2 separate regions of the Homo sapiens genome follow, and region 2 is linked to region 1. The links come from fine-mapping of genetic effects on gene expression. A gene starts in region 1. The other region holds a variant in brackets. All regions are shown on one strand. Distances are from middle to middle.

Region 1 (8,326 bases):
ATCTGGCCTATGTGCACATCCAGGCATAGTACCTTCCCTTGAACTTATTTGTGACACAGATTCCTTTGCTCACGTTTTCTTGCTGACCTTCTCCCCACTATCACCCTGTTCTCCTGCCGCATTCCCCTTGCTGAGACAGTGCAAATAGTAAACAATAAATACTGAGGGAACTCACAGACTGGTGCCGGTGCAGGTCCTCCATATGCTAAGTGTTGGTCTCCTGGGCCCACTGTTCTTTCTCTATACTTTGTCTCTGTGTCTTATTTCTTTTCTCAGTCTCTCGTCCCACCTGACGAGAAACACCCACAGGTGTGGAGGGGCAGGCCACCCTTCATCCAGGTATCTGTGGAATTAACTTTCCTGCCCTTCAATGTCACCTTCTTAATGTCACTTATAACAGATCCCCCAATCGTGCTATCTTTAATTAGCACTAATAATCTAAGATACCACATAATGTACTTTTAATACACATTAGTCCCTCACTAGTAATATTTCTACTAGTAGTATTTCTAGTAGTGAGGGTTTAATCTGTATTAAAAGTACACTATATAGTATCTTAGATTATTAATGCTAATAATAATAAAAAGCAGGAATGTCTATTTGTTCACTGATGAATATTAAGCTCCTAGAACAATTTGCACACTGTGCTCAGTATTCAGAGTGAATTAATATTCTAATGTTTCTATTAGAAAATATTTGAAATTCCAGGCCGGGCGCGGTGGCTCACGCTTGTAATCCCAGCACTTTGGGAGGCCGAGGGGGGCGGATCACGAAGTCAGGAGATCGAGACCATACTGGCTAACACGGTGAAACCCCATCTCTACTAAAAATACAAAAACAAAATTAGCCGGGGGCGGTGGTGGGCGCCTGTAGTCCCAGCTACTCGGAAGGCTGAGGCAGGAGAATGGCATGAACCCGGGAGGGGGAGCTTGCAGTGAGCCAAGATCGCGCCACTGCACTCCAGCCTGGGTGACAGAGTGAGACTCCGTCACACACACACACAAAAAAAAAAAAAAATTGAAATTCCAGACAACTAAACATAAATTTTAGAACATAATTAGTTAAGGTCATTGAAAAAAAAAAATTAACTGATGCTGGGGCTGGGTGCGGTGGCTCATGCCCGTAATCCCACCATTTTGGGAGGCTGAGCCTGGCGGATCATTTGAGGTTGAGAGTTCAAGATCAGTCTGGCCAACATAGTAATACCCCGTCTCCACTTAAAAAATATACAAAAATTAACCAGGCATGGTGGGACATGCCTGTAATTCCAGCTACTCAGGAAGTTGAGGCAGGAGAATCCCTTGAACCTGGGAGATGGAGGTTGCAGTGAGCCATGATCGTGCCACTGCACTCCAGCCTGGGCAACAGAGCAAGACACCGTCTCAAAAAATAAAAAAATAAAAAGTACTGCATTCTCTACTAGTTTCACAAGTCACTTGACTTTCCAACGCTTTAAGGATACTTCTTTTATAAGCCCGAATGTACTGCACTAAACTTAGTAGGAGATCCCTGATTGTCCATTATAATTGATCAATTAACTGAAATTACACAAGTAAACAAAAATGCCAGATGTCTGCCTACATATAATATTTATAAATCTGAATTTTATTTCATATATGGATGGAAGTTAAGGCCTTAACCGGTCAGCCTCCTTCCAGTGTTTTACCCTCCATTTTACCCTAAAAAAGGATAATCAACTGTTAACGCATATTCATAATGTGAAGTTTCCAGGATCAAGAATCCAAGAGGTTTTTTATTAACCATAATAAATCCAAACTTCTATCTTCCATATGCCTCCTTCTATTATATCTAACCTTCTATTCTCTCCAAAAGCATATAATTATGCCTGTTTCCTTACTGTGCCACAAACAGACTAACACATACTACCACGGAGCTGTTTATTTTCCAAACGGGATATCTTTTTCCATTCTCTCATTCAACATCCAACGGTCCATCAAGGCCCAACTCAAAACCTATTATTCTCCACAAAGCCCATTATATAAACCCTACAAGACTTAAAACAGATTCCAAACTAGTGACTGATAGGCCATATGAGACTTGTGTTTGACCCACTTTTTTTTTTTTAATAAAATTCTATTCCACTGACAACATTTAAAAACTGGGAGAGGATGCTTTTTAAAAAATGGTATTTCCAACTTTTTTTGAAAAAATTAGATGTTCTGGCAAAACTGGGATCATATTCTCACATAGCCACAATCAGCTGTAGCTGAGTGGCAGGTGACCCCTTCTAAGGGTGAAGTATTCATTAACGTTAACTGCCTGATCTCTGCAGCATACCTTCAGCACCTGCAATCATTCAAGAAATAACTGACTGTCTTATGTGCCAAGAACTGTATTAGCTACTGGAGTTACAAAGATAAACGAGACAAACACAGTCCCTCACCGACAGTCTCGCTTAGTAGGGATGGCAAAGAAGCAATTAAGATACATGTGATAAATGCCGTGAGGGAAGTGCAGGACAGCTAAGAGTACATAGCAAAAATACCTAACTCTATGGAAGTTAGGGTATACCCCTCAAGTAAAGTGACAGCTAAACTCAGATCTTTAATAGAAGTTATCCAGAAAAAGATAGGAGGAAACAGGGAGCTCAAATGTCCCAGAGAGAGAAAAGAGCCTTTGTGAAGATACTGAGGGAAGAAAGTATTCTGAGGAATTGAAATCCGTTCAACATGGCTACAGCCATGCCCAACCTTTAAATGCAGGGTCAGAGAAAGGGCTCAACTGAAATGGCTGGCAGGAAAATCTACGTGTTATCAATAGTTAAGGTTAGGAGATGAAGGAGAATTTCACTAAAGAAGTTGAATATGTAAAATAGTTTAAGCAGGAAATAGAGGTTTCAGAAAGCACAGATGGGGTGTTGAGGGGTTAAATGGGGAAGAAACGAAGAAGCAGTGATAGCCTAAGTCGAAAGAAAGCACAAAGCAGCATGGAAATGAGACTATAGCACAGAAGACCACAGAAGCTTACATCTTGGGCGGTAACCAAGGATAACAGAGATGTAAAGCATGGTAAGTTTGGCTGGCCACAAGTATGCCTAGAGAATTAGTGCCAGCGGTCTCCTGTCGGCCACGGAGGCATTCAGGCCTCTCAAAATTCAGCTGCGCCCTGGATGGATTGTACTTCCGTCTCTATAGAAGACATCGGCTTCACTCTGGATTGATTGTGCAGGCTCCAGGAGAGGCTGTGGGTTCCAGGCTGCTGGAACGCAGGCTCCCAGGGAGTGGTTAGAGGCCTGGTCTGTATGTGCTGGTAGGCAGAAGTATAAATTACCTTGCATTACGTTCTGATTTTTCTGTAGGAATGGTGGGCATGTTATGGCCTCTTAGAGAAAAAGCAGTGCGTAGCCATTATAGATTTACAGGAAGAGAAAAGGTGCCAAGAAGATCAACACTTGTCCATACCCATACTAAAGATGAGTCATTCTGTGAATCCAACTCTCCCCAAGTTGACCTCGTCTCCCCAACTAGACTGAGATCTTCACCAGAAAACAAAACAAAACAAAACATAAAAGGTCTGTTTATTTTGTAGTTCCCAAAGTGCCTAATAGCTGGGTACCGTGAACACCTTCAGTAAAATTACCGACTTCCTGACTCCTCTCGGGTCACTGAAGTTACCTAGCTCAGTCGTCTTCTTGCATATTAAGGCGCTACAGAGAGGCGAACCCCTATCTTAGACTCAATACTTCCCTTTATTCCAAACTCCACTGCGTCTCTCCACCCTCAACCGCATGGGCAGAATTGTCACACAATTCAAAGGCAGGAGAATCCAGGACCCGACACAGAAAACTCCCGCCCACTCCCCCCCGTTTAGCAGCCCGCACACGCTCTGCATCCATCTCTGGGAAAGGTAAAAAGCGCTCACCGACTCTGGCCCTCCGGGAGACCCCGTAAATGCAGCCGTCCGCTCGCCGCCGTTATCCCAGGTAGGTACTTCCGGCGCGCGCAATGACGTTAGCGAAGCGCTCGCCTCTGGGCCCGCCTTCGGGGCCCGGATCTCAAACAGTCGGGAAGAAGCACCGTGGCTGCTATTATCTGCTCTCCGCGCCTGACCCCTCCCAGGACTCGTGATGCCAAGGCCGCTGCGAGCGGCTACGAAGAGTCGGGGTTGAGCCCCAGCTGAGCCGAGGGCTCGCACTCTTCTGGTCTCCCAGGCCCAACCCACCTGAAGGTAAACGCCTCCTCAGCTGCGGCCTTCTCTCCTGCGGGGCCCCCTCCCCAGACTCGGCTGCCAAAACGCTCTGCCCCTCTCTCCCGCCACCCTTTTTATTCCAGGACCTTAACCTCTGCCTGCCTTCGCGGCTCTCAGCAGAACGTGTAACGCATAGTTTCAAATGAGAAACTTAAAAAGCGACGTATCTATGTTGAGTTCCTGAAGTTTTCTAAATAATTCCCCCATAACACCAAACATGAGGCAGTTTTCTCATTCCTTCACGAATTGGCATGCCATAGAGTCAGTATTTTTCCATTTGTGATGGTTGATCTTCCCATCTCAAATACACACCGCACGCTCTTTTTAAATCAGAAATTTGAATTTGGTTGAGCCTGATATTTTCACGGTAATTTGCTGACTTTGTAAGATAAGATGTGAAAATTACTGATTACATTTGTAAACTTTATATACATATACACACATACCTACAGGTCTGTCTCTTCGAGGCACCAAGCCTATTTATATAATGTATCATTTCATAATTTGGCAATAAGCAAAATTAGCGTTTCGAAAGAAGTTTATATTGTCGATACATAAAGCTTAAATTTACTCCTTAACATCATACTAAAAGGGGAAAAGAAAATTTTCCTCTTAACACACCACTCCAGAGAAAAAAAATATTAAGACAAGCAAAAAAGGTACCCAGCCATAGTACAGGCATGCACAGCATAACAACTTTTTGATTAACAACAAACCACATATACCACAGTGGTCTCCTAAGAGTGTAATACATTGTACCATATTTTTAGTGTACGTTTTCTGTGTTTAGCTATGTAAATATTTACCATTGTGTTTCAACTGTCTACATTATTCACTACATTAACATGCTGTACAGGTTGTAGCCTAGGAGCAATAGGCTAGACCATCTAGGTTTGTCTCAGTACACCCTGTGATGTCTGCACTGTGAAATCACGTAACACTCAGAACATACCTCCTTCATTAAGCATAGCATGACTGTGTATTAGCAAAAATCAGTGGCTAAGGTTCTGTCTGAGTCCCCATGCTCTTTCTGACCTGGGTGAGCAAGGTGCAGGTAATGTACATATACAGTACATATTCAATAGAGCATTTTTTTTGCTCATGGTCTGAGTGGAAGTTAGGAGTAGCCTCAGGGTTTTTCCTTCATCTGTTCAAAACCCGTCTCCCTACCCATACAATCTGGCACTGAAAGTGTTGGTATAAAGAATACTTGAAAGAAGAAGAACCAAAAAAGAATTTTTTTTAAGTGGTGACTGGGAAAAAGGAATTCCTTAATTCAGCCTGCTGGAGTCATTGTTCCTAACTTCCTAAAATGTAAGGAAGGTGTACACATCTGGCATAATTAAATCGGTGATTGTTAATACTTTATTGGTTTTTGTTTTTTGTTTTTTTCCAAATAATACCCAGACTGGTCTGATGTATTGGTTTTATTTGGAATTAATAATACTTGGTTTAGGCCAGGTGTGGTGATTCATGCCTGTAATCCCAGCACTTTGGGAGGCTGAGGCAGGTGGATCATTTGAGGTCAGGAGTTCAAGACCAGCCTGACCAACATGGTGAAACACTGTCTCTACTAAAAATACAAAATTAGCCAGGCATGGTAGTGGATGCCTATAATCCCAGCTACTCGGGAGGCTGAGGCAGGATAATTGCTTGAACCTGGGAAGCAGAGGTTGCAGTGAGCCGAGATCACGCCATTGCACCCCAGCCTGGGCAACAAGAGGGAAACTCCGTCTCAAACAACAAAAAAAGAATCCTGGTTTAGACTGATTGCTGATAAGTTTGTTTTCACTTTTAGAAATGAGTGGTGGATTGGCTCCAAGTAAGAGCACAGTGTATGTATCCAACTTGCCTTTTTCCCTGACAAACAATGACTTGTACCGGGTAAGTAAATCTTATCGAGTGACTGCTATTTGAGATACAGATAACCTTAAGCAAATAGTTCTCCCTGGCAAATTCTTTTTTCCTTTTTTTTTTTTTCTTTTTTTGAGACAGTCTAATTCTGTCACTGAGGCACGAGGCTGTAGTGCAGTGGCACTATCATGGCTCACTGCAGCCTCCCCGCCCCCTCAGGTGATCCTCCCACCTCATCCTCCCAAGTAGCTGGGAATACAGGTGTGTGCCACCATGCCTCTACAAGCTACCTGGGAGACTGAGGTTGGAAGATTGCTTGAGCCTAGGAGGTCGAGGCGACAGTGAGCCAAGGTCACACCACTGCACTCCAGCCTGGGTGACAGAATGAGACCCTGTCTCAAAAAAAAAAAAGAAAAAAAAATAGAAGCTATATTTATTGAACATTTAAGTCAAATTATGTGTTAGATACTAAGGAGATGCTAAGATGTTAGGTGCTAAGGAGAAAAAATAACGCAGGAAAGGTGGGCTATTGAACGTTAAGTTGGGAATGGAAGTGAAATTTTACATAGGGCGGTCAGAAATGCCATTATTGAGAAGGTGACTTTTGAATAAAGACCTGAAACGAGTAAGAGGCACCTGTGCAAATTCTAGAGGACAAACATTTCAGAAAAAGAGGGGTAATCTTAGGTAAGCCCACTCGAGGTGCCTTATACGACCTATTTACATCATGGTAAGGACTCTGGCTTTCACTCTGCATGAAACAAGAAGCCATTAGTAAGTATTATATAGAAGACTGTACTGGCCTTCAGAACCCAGTGTTGCTAACACTGCTATCCAGTTATTTTACATTCCAGCATTATACAGCTTAATCATAGAACGAAAAAATTCGTTATTATTGGTTGCATATACTAACACATTCTAAAAGACTTTTTATATAATAGGAACTCTTAGTATATGGGTAATGAGCTGGAACTGTAGAAATAAATGAGATTGCATAGGATAAAGTAAAAGTAACAGAAGAGAGAGCCAAGTATAAAGTTCCACCAACATGTTAATGGTGGGCAGAGGAAGAAGACTGATAGAAATGGATTTTTCATTATAAAAGCTTATTTTATGAGGTTTTGTTTTGTTTTTTAAATAAAGCAGTCTAAGGATTTGCCTTCTCAAACAGGGATTGCTTAATAGGAATAACAAGGTAGTGGTGAGGGTAGAATTGGAAAAGTGCTGCTCCATAAGATTGACATTTGAAGCACAGGTGTATCTGGCACTATGATGGAGTTGATAGTTGCCATGGGTATACCTCAGGAACACAGCAGCTGTCCAGTATGTATGCCTTAGATCTACCACATGTGTAGAGTGAGTTTTTTTCTCTGTATTTACTCCATTGTCAAATTTAGAAACAGACAGATACATGTGACTCCAACAACAGTAAGTATATTATTCTAGTAACCAAAAAAAACTTTTTCCTAGGGCCTGTCTTATAGACTGAAGGCTGAAATTATTCATAAACTGTAACAAAGAATTTGGTCAATGTCTGCAACCTAAAAATTTGATGTTTTATGATTTTAAAATAAATTGTAAATATTTGGTCTTTTGTTTCAGATATTTTCCAAGTATGGCAAAGTTGTAAAGTAAGTATTCACATTAAATTTTGTAACTTCATTTAAAAGTTTATCTGAATTTGCTTCTACATTTTTTTAATGACAGATTTTTAAAAATAAAACATGCTTGATATAATAAAGAAAATACTATTAACATTTTTATGACAATTTAGTTGGTTTTCCATGTACATAAACATGTAGACAATTTTTCTTAAAGACTATTACATACATACAATTTTCTTTTCTTTTTTAATTTGACATACCATAAATGTCTTTCCATGTGCTATAAAGATACATCCTCATAGCTAATGGTAAACAAATATTTTGGTTACTAGGAAGTGTGTTATCAAGTATACTATAAGTAACCTACTTTCAAATAAATAGGTGGTTTTTTGTTTTGTTTTTTTTCATATAAATAGTGTAAAAACAAATATTTCAGTGCATCTGACTTGCAGGATGCTATGAGTCTTTTAAATAGAAAACATATTATCTTCCTTCAGAGATAGCTTGGAGATCGTTGGAAAGACTAGAAACATGCAAAAATGGTAATGGATGATAACAGGGCTGAGGGTTAGGAACAATAAAAAGAACTTGAACTTCTCGTATTTCACTGTTTTAAATCAAGCAACTATATTATGGGGCAAAAAAGTAACAGGATACTG
Region 2 (8,339 bases), 270 kb before region 1:
CAAAACTTAGACGCCACATAACCAATATACTAGAAGACCTCACTCAGAATAAGGAGAGAATGAACCACTGAAATGACAAGAATGCGGCTAGCTTCCCCATCCTTTGATGCTCATAAATCAGTGAGGAATAAGCCATGGCTTTCTGTTAGACATTTTAAATCAATGTCAGCCTCTAATTTAAAAAGTGAGAAGAAAATGTAGTCTTCTGTTATTAACCCTTAGTACTCTAATAAAAATAATATTCATAATAATAATAAAAAACTTGCCAAGTGCCAGTCCTGAATCCATTGATGGGCAGTTGCACTACGTAAAATCATATGACTTAGATCAGTTTTCAACAACTTTGCCTCTATGGAGGGTGCTTCCATAGAGCATCCACCTCAGTTCTGGGGAAAAACAGTATCAAGACCTTTCTGCCATGATTGTAACAAGAGCTTCGTTTCCTCTGGCTGTGTTTTGAGAGTTACCTCTCCTTTCTCTTCCTTTTCCCCCTAACACTGTCACTCACACATCTCTCCTGATTCCCACTACATTCTTGTTTCTCTCAGGCCCTGCTGACAGGCTTGCCTGCCTGCTTTAACCTATTTAACCAGACAGTAAGAATAAGAAAACTATAGCTGCTTACAGGCAAATTCCAATTCTAGATTAGAGGAGATTTCATACAACTTGCAAATGTAGGAGTTCAAGTGCCAGGCAGAAGTATAGGCTGGGATCTCACATCTTGAGTCATTCATTTGGGGAAAATTTATTCCCGATTCTTTGACTTCATTTTAGCTCCTTATCTCCATGGGCTTTTTTTTTTTTTTTTTTTTCTCATATTGAATTATTCTGTTTTGGTGGCTGAAATAGTACTTTTTAGCAAGAGTGGGTTGGAACCCTGAAACTCTATAAAAAGGACTAAGTGTGCTGATTTGTGTGTTTCTCTCTAAGGCTCCTTAAACTTCATTGTTTTAAAATGTAGAAATTAAATTAAAAGAGAAATTTCCTGTCAGATAACTAATCCTAAAAATTAAAATATTGTCATTTGATTATTGTTTTAGTCTCCCATTTGCCTTTTAACCTAATGGGTTTAGTAAACCAATTTCCTTTATACATTTCACTCAGTCGCATCATGAGTGACATATTATTTTGCTAATGCTTTAGGACACTAATGTAGAGGAGAATGTGTTCTAGTCACATGGTTAGCACACTAACATAAAAGACTAATTTCTAGGCCCATCGGTGGCTCTCATTCACCAGAAAGCCACATCCTGGTGGCGGAGGTGCTGGCCTGGGAACCAGTTCCCAGGAGCTCAAAAATGAGAGCTGCTTCAAGTTGCTCCTAACTCCTTCCTAGCATCTACTGCTATATCTGGATTTTCAGAGTTGGTGAGCAAAACCAATAATTTTTCCAGAAGAAAATGGAGTGTAAATGTAGTCATCTCTATTTGAAAGTTTTTGATACTTACAACCCATAACCACTATTGAACATGTCACGTTTTTTCTTATGCTTTCTTGAGTTTTGTTTTACTTTAATGCCCCACAGATCCTGAGCTCGGGCTGGGAGTTGTGGTTGGTGGTACGAGTGTGCCTAGGAGGGGTGGAATTCTTTAAACTCAGACCTCTGGGAACTTCTGCCCCAGCAACAGCACTAGTGAGAGGAAAAGCTAATGTAGTCATTGTAGGTCATACTTGAAGATATTTATGGAACTTCACGTGCTATCTATAGGAGTTCTTCAGGCCTGGGGTCAAAAGTAGCAGAATAAGCAACATTCTGCAGCAGGAGCTGCTACTTTTTATAGGAATGAGAGAATATATAGTAAAATCTAAGATCTCAACTTTCAGAGGTAGAGGATTGATTTTAGTCCTCCTTCAGTCACTCAACTACAAGTCCCAGAGTTCTTTTTATATGAAAAAATAGAAAATGAAAGCACCATTTAACCCAAGATATTTCCCAAAAGAACATTAGAAGCCAGCATGTCACTCAATCTTGTTTTTGTAAGCTCCTGAAGTAAATAAATTAGTCTTGAGTGTCTCTACATTGCACCAAGAAGATCTGAAATAAAATTAGATTAGTAGCTTTGAGCAAAAAGGACATTTATTTCTCCTTTTCCTCTCTCTTTCTCAAACTCACAGGTATGTGAAATCATATTTCATATTGTGGGTTTGAAGTATAAACAAGAAAGCCAGAGTCAGAGAACCAAAATAAACCAACCACCAATCTATTTTCCAGTCTCAGCCCTTCCATTTTTCTGGTAGAGGTCTGAAATTAATCTTGTTTCCAGAAGTTGGGTATGTGCTGTGGAGCTCCTTCAAGCCACAGCTGTGCCTCCATCACATGTAAACACCATTGGATTCCACATTGCTTCCTAATTTGGCCACTGGCACTGTGGTCCACACTTGAACCTTAGCTCCATTGGTTGAACCATAACAACCTGACATTTCCTCTTCCTGGGAGGTTAGACTCCCCTAATTGCTGCTTCACCTAGTTCACCGCCTCCCCGTCCTAGTGCTGACTCTACTGCCCAAATATATGGCCCCGATCTCCTTCACACTGTGAACCACACTAGGCTTGGCTGGATCACCTTAGGGTATGGGCTGGCCAGCCCTACCTGCCCCCACCTCACTCCCTTCTCCCCACCAGCTCTCCATTAAGGTCCCAGTATCTATTTATCTTTCAGTGGATACTGAGCACCTACTCTGTTCTAGTTACTGTGCCAGGCACTGGAGTCGCAACATTGAATTAGGCAGCATTCTGCCCTCAAGGAACAAACTAATGGAAAAGGCAGCAAATTAAAGATGATAAAGATTGCTGTGACAAAGGAATGAACTCTGACCCAATGTCCTCCTTCCGCTCATCTTTGAGCAGAGGGGAAATGGCCTTCAATTCTTGCATATGTACTAAGTAAACTCAGCTTTTTATGAAATTATCAATTCAGCTCAGTTGACTGTGAAAATATATAATTCATTTTTTAATGAACAACACGGAATAGTTGAGTATTGCCCAAGGATTATAATCTCAAAATCGCTGCTGGCCATACTCCCAAAAGCCTGGTGAAAGCATATTTGTGGAGGATTGCCTGAAGGAAGTGCAGATCAGCTTGGTCTGCTTTACAGAACTATTATAAACTGCTGAATCCTCCTGGGATCCCCAAAGCCCACCCATCAGACCCTTCGAGGGCCTCCTTTAAACCTCTTAGTGGTGGGACTCTAGGGCTGCATGAAGCACAGTTTGCTCTGGGGAGCTTAAAACTTAGCTGAGGGTAGGTACTGCTCTCTTCCTGAAATGCCCTCGTCTTTGGTATTCATTCAACACTTTCTCACTATCTCCTTCCTATCTCTCTGGCTTCTTCTTTTAGCCAGTTTTGCAGATTACTTTCTCTGATAATCCAAAACAGAACTCCTTATCTTCTCCCACAAAACTTGTCCCTGCTTTTAAGCTCCTACATGCCTCAGCCTCTGCCCTCCTCTGCAGGTTCCTCCAAGCCTCCACCTCACTGCTCTCCTTTTGTGCCCCATGCTGCAGCCAGTCTGGACATATTTC[A/C]TGTCCTTAGATTCAGCCTATTTGCATTTACCTCCTCACCTTTACACATGATGTTCCCTCTGCCCAAAATGCTTAGACACGTGAGCACACACACCTACATGCACACATCTTACCCTCAGTTAGTTCATCTTCTAGATGCCTCTTCTTCCAAGAAGTCTTCCCTCACTCTACCTCCATTCCCTCCAACTATGCAATACCAGAATACTTCGGACTACTCACTTTATTGTAATTGTCATATATTCTGTTAAGTGCCTGTTACAAAATGAAGTGATTTTTGTTGTTGTTGTTGTTGTTGTTGAGATGGCATCTCTCTCTGTCTCCCAGGCTGGAGTGCAGTGGTGCAGTCTCAGCTCACTGCAACCTCCACATCACAGGCTCAAGCATTTCTCTTTCCTCAGCCTCCCAAGTAGCTGGGATTACAGACACTCACCACCATGCCTGGCTAATTTTTGTATTTTTAGTAGAGGCGGGGTTTCACCATGTTGGCCAGGCTGGTCTCGAACTCCTGACCTCAGGTGATCCACCCTTCTCAGCCTCCCAAAGTGCTGGAATCACAGGCGTGAGCCACCATGACCGGACAAAATGAAGTAATTAAATTGCTCTTCTAAAAAATAAATTTCATTGAATTCATGGGTGCTCTGAGAAACATCCCCAAGAAACACATTGTGAGTGCTCTGTGAGGATGTTATTCATCATTTCTCTAGAGCCTTCTTCACGTGGACCTGGGGTGTGGGTGATTCTTTCTGCTCTTCAATTTACTAATAGTCATACTTCTCCTAAGAACAGGATTGTTTTAATTTAGATACCTTTTCCATTGTGTAGGAATTATATAACCATCGTCACATTGGCTGCTAGAAATCTGAAAACTAAATCGTGTCTCACTCTTTATGGGATGAATTTTATGAACTTGTCTCATTTATTTTTCTCATCTTTCATATCTACTTTCAAGTTATGCTAACTTGCTATGTGTTATGGGTACATAACAGTAAGTGGACATAAATCTTTTCCGGAATAAAGGAATAACTAATCGAATAAACAAAATGATAGAGGAGTATAAGGTTCAACAGAGAAAAGTAGCCTCTAAATGGTGGAAGGGTGTACCAAACGGTACTCCTTAATTTGTAAGTCACTTAAACCCCAAACTGGCTTAAATGACAACAAAATATTAAATTAACTGAAAAGTTTAGTGGTAGTTCATTTTCAGGTAGAGTTTGATCCAGGAGCTCAAATCATGCCATCAGATCCTGTTCTCTCACCATCTCTCCCTTCTATCCTCCTTCATGCTTGCTCAATGCTCAGGCTTCCTGTGGTGACAAAATAGTTTCTGGAATCTAGACCTTTGCATTCCAAGATGTATGTTTAAAAGACAGAAGAACAAGAGAATATCTCCTGTCTATGAATAAAAAATCCATAAGGATAGATAGAGACTTTGGATATTTGGTTTACTGTTGAATTCCCAGCAAGGCAGTGGCTGGTATATAAGTGATCAATAAATACTTGTTGAAGTTGTTGTTATGGCATCACTAAAAGCTCATGCACAAATCCCAATACTTGACCTGGGTCACATGCCCATCCCTGAACTAATCTTTTGGTCAGGGGATCCAGTGCTCTAATTTTCCAGGTCTGGGTCACCTGATCCTAACACCAAAACCAGGGATGAGTCTCCAACTAATCCATGTGCACTGACAGTGGGAGATGATGGTTCCTCAAGGGAAATTGGGGGCATTACAAAGAAGGAGAAACAAGCTTGGCAGACAAAACAATAAATAATGCACATCAATGGACTACCAAGAAGGTGATGTTTGAGTCGAATGGTAAAGGATAAGCAGGAGTTAGCTAATAAAGAGGGCAATTTTCAGTGGGTAACATTCTAGGTATTTTCAAAGCACAGAGTCATAAAACAGCCTGATGCTTTTGAAGAACTGTAAATAGCTTAATATGGTTAGAGCAAACAAGGGTGGAGAGTAGTAAAAAAAAAATAAGCCAGAGAGATAGGCATAGTGCAAATATAAAAGACCTTTAGAACTAATCCAAGGAGTGTGCACTCTATCCTGAAAGCCCTGAAGAGCATAAGTAGGATTTGCAGCCCGGGAGCACGCCTGACAGCCAGGCCCTTGCAGATCATTATAGGGTCAACACTGATTCACCCTGCAAACACTGGTTGGGGCTGGGTCTGCAAGTCAAAGAAAGGAGTCCCAGATGTGGATGAACAAGAGACACAGGGAGCAGACGCCAAGCAAATCCTAGGAATCAAACAGACCTGGGAATCAAACAAAGACTGCCAACACTGTCTGATTGTTGCTTAATTCTCAAGCTTGTGGCCCACACTGTCACGAATTCTTCATCTAAATATGAAAATCCTCTTTAGTGAGCCACGACACATTCAGAGCATGACATGGTTGGGTATTGTACTAGTTTGCTGGGGCTACCATAATAAAGTACCACAAACTGGGTGGCTGAAACAACTGAAATTTATTGTCTTACAGTTGTGCAGGTGGAAAGTCTGAGATCAAGGTGTGGGCAGGGTTGGTTCCTTCTGAGAGCTGTGAGGAAGAATCTGTTCCGTGCCTCTCTCCTGGCTTCTGGTAATTTGCTGGCAATCAATGATGTTCCTTGGCTTGCAGAAGCATCACCCTGATCTCCGCCTTCACCTCTATGTGGTATTCTCCCTGTGTGCATGTCTGTCTCCAAATTCTGCTCCCCACCTCTTTTTGAGACACGGTCTCGCTGTATTGCCCAGGCTAGAGTGCAGGGACACCATAATGGCTCACCACAGCCTCGATGTCCTGGGCTCAAGTGATTGTCCTGCCTCAGCCTTCCAGTAGCTGGGAACATAGGTGCATGCCCATGCCACCACACCTGGCGATTTCTTTCTTTTTTTTCCTTTTTTTTTTTTTTGGAGAGACAAGATCTCCCTGTGTTGCCTGTTGCCCAGGCTCATCTCAAACTCCTGGGCTTAAGTGACTCTCCCACCTCAGCCTCCCAAAGTGCTGGGAGTATAGGCATGAGTCACTATGCCTGCCCAAGTTTCCCCTTTTTATAAGGATAAAAATCATATTGGATTAGGACTGAACTTAGTGACCTCATGTTAACTTGATTAACTCTGCAAAGACCTTATCTCCAAATAAGGTTGCATTCTGAGGTACTGCAGTTAAGGACTTCAACATGAAGTTTTGGAGGACACAATTCAACACACAAAAATGTTATTTTTAAAAAGAAGTTGCAGCCAGGCTCAGTGGCTCATGCCTGTAATCCTAGCACTTTGGGAGGCCAAGGCAGGTGGATCACTTGAGGTCAGGAGTTCAAGACCAGCCTGGCCAACATGGCGAAACCCCGTCTGTACTAAAAATACAAAAATTAGCTGGGTGTGATGGCATGCACCTGTAGTCCCAGCTACTCGGGCAGCTGAGGCAGGAGAATTGCATGAACCCTGGGGTCAGAGTTTGCAGTGAGCCAAGATCGTGCCATTTCACGCCAGCCTGGGCGAAGAGCAAGACTCCATCTCAAATAAATAAATAAAATAAAAAGAAGTTACTTAGCCACGTACGGTAGTGCATGCCTGTAGTCTCAGCTACTCGGGAGGCTGTGGCGGGAGGATCACTTGAGCCCAGGAGTTTGAGGCTGAAGTGAGCTGTGATCACCACTGCACTCCAGACTGGGTGACAGATCAAGGGTGTCTCAAAAAAGAAAAGTAGACATTCTCTAAGTGAATTGATTTCTTACAAAAGGTATGACATCATGTTGCTTTGTAAAGACAAAGAAAATAACACCATTAATAAAACAGACTCAGAAAAAAGAAAAAGAGACCCAGGAGCAATTCAAGAGTTCACAATGAAGAATGCTTTTTCAGATTAAATAAAAAACAGTTCTTTTCTACTTGTGGGATTTTGCATGGAGGCTGCTATAGAGAAGGGTGCTTGTGAGAAGATGCCTTATAAAATGAAATACAAACGTTCCAGTGATTTCTGCAGCATTCAATCTTCCCAACAGTTCCCTGAGCTGAATATTATTACCCTCACTTACCAATGAGAAACTAAGCCTGAGAGAGGTTAACTACATTACCCCAGGCTACATTTGGTAAGCGGTGGGGCTGAAATTTGAAATCAGACTGTTGTGACCTCAGACCATCACATGCACTGGCCGGAGTAATTTTATGAGTCCTGGTTGAAGGCCAAGTATTCACCTTTGCAATGGATCCAAAAGATGCTGCCCAGCACACAGTCCAAAGAGGCAGTAATCCTCCAGAGGGAATGACCATGTATCATCCACAGTGCTCAGGGTGTCTGCTCCACATAATAGATGCTCAACAAACAAAACCTTTGTGAAGTCACTGTACAGCAATAAGATTTATTTCACCTATGGAGGTAGTGAAATTTTCTTTGGCAGTTCTGGAGGTTAGATAGAACCTAAAAGTTGATAGCTTAATAGAAGCATTTGTAACCCCAGCAAGATAAACAGACACAACTTCAAAGGCCAATTCCAATAAAATGCTGAGGGGCAAGAAAACCTGGTTTGTTCTTTCCCAGATTCTCGTCACCTGAGGTCAGGAGTTCGAGACCAGCCTGGCCAACATGGGGAAACTGTCTCTACTAAAAATACAAAAATTACCTGGGCGCGGTGGCAGGTGCCTGTAATCCCAGCTACTCGGGAGGTTGAGGAAGGAGAATCGCTTCAACACGGGGGCGGGGCGGAGGTTGCAGTGAGCGGAGATCGCGCCACTGCACTCCAGCCTGTGTGACAAGAGCGAAACTCCGTCTCAAAAAAAAAAAAAAAAAAAAAAAAAAAAAAAAACAACGCTAGCAAGTGGAATTATTTC

What was found.
Region 2: its variant is fine-mapped to the expression of ZCRB1 in whole blood (TOPMed, PIP above 0.99).

The regions. Positions count from the first base shown.
Region 1 is chr12:42,321,786-42,330,111 of GRCh38, reverse strand. ZCRB1 (zinc finger CCHC-type and RNA binding motif containing 1) reads left to right here and starts at 4,018. Exons shown (of 8, transcript NM_033114.4): 1 at 4,018-4,188; 2 at 6,008-6,093; 3 at 7,666-7,694. The coding sequence starts at 6,010. PPHLN1 (periphilin 1) reads right to left here and starts at 3,945. Exons shown (of 10, transcript NM_201439.2): 1 at 3,883-3,945. MIR7851 (microRNA 7851) reads left to right here and starts at 6,253; the gene lies at 6,253-6,412. RefSeq lists an enhancer at 4,273-4,322.
Region 2 is chr12:42,591,278-42,599,616 of GRCh38, reverse strand. No RefSeq gene overlaps it. Among named protein-coding and RNA genes, the nearest start is that of PRICKLE1, 5.7 kb to the right of the region's middle. The variant A/C (reference allele first, on the strand shown) is at 3,524.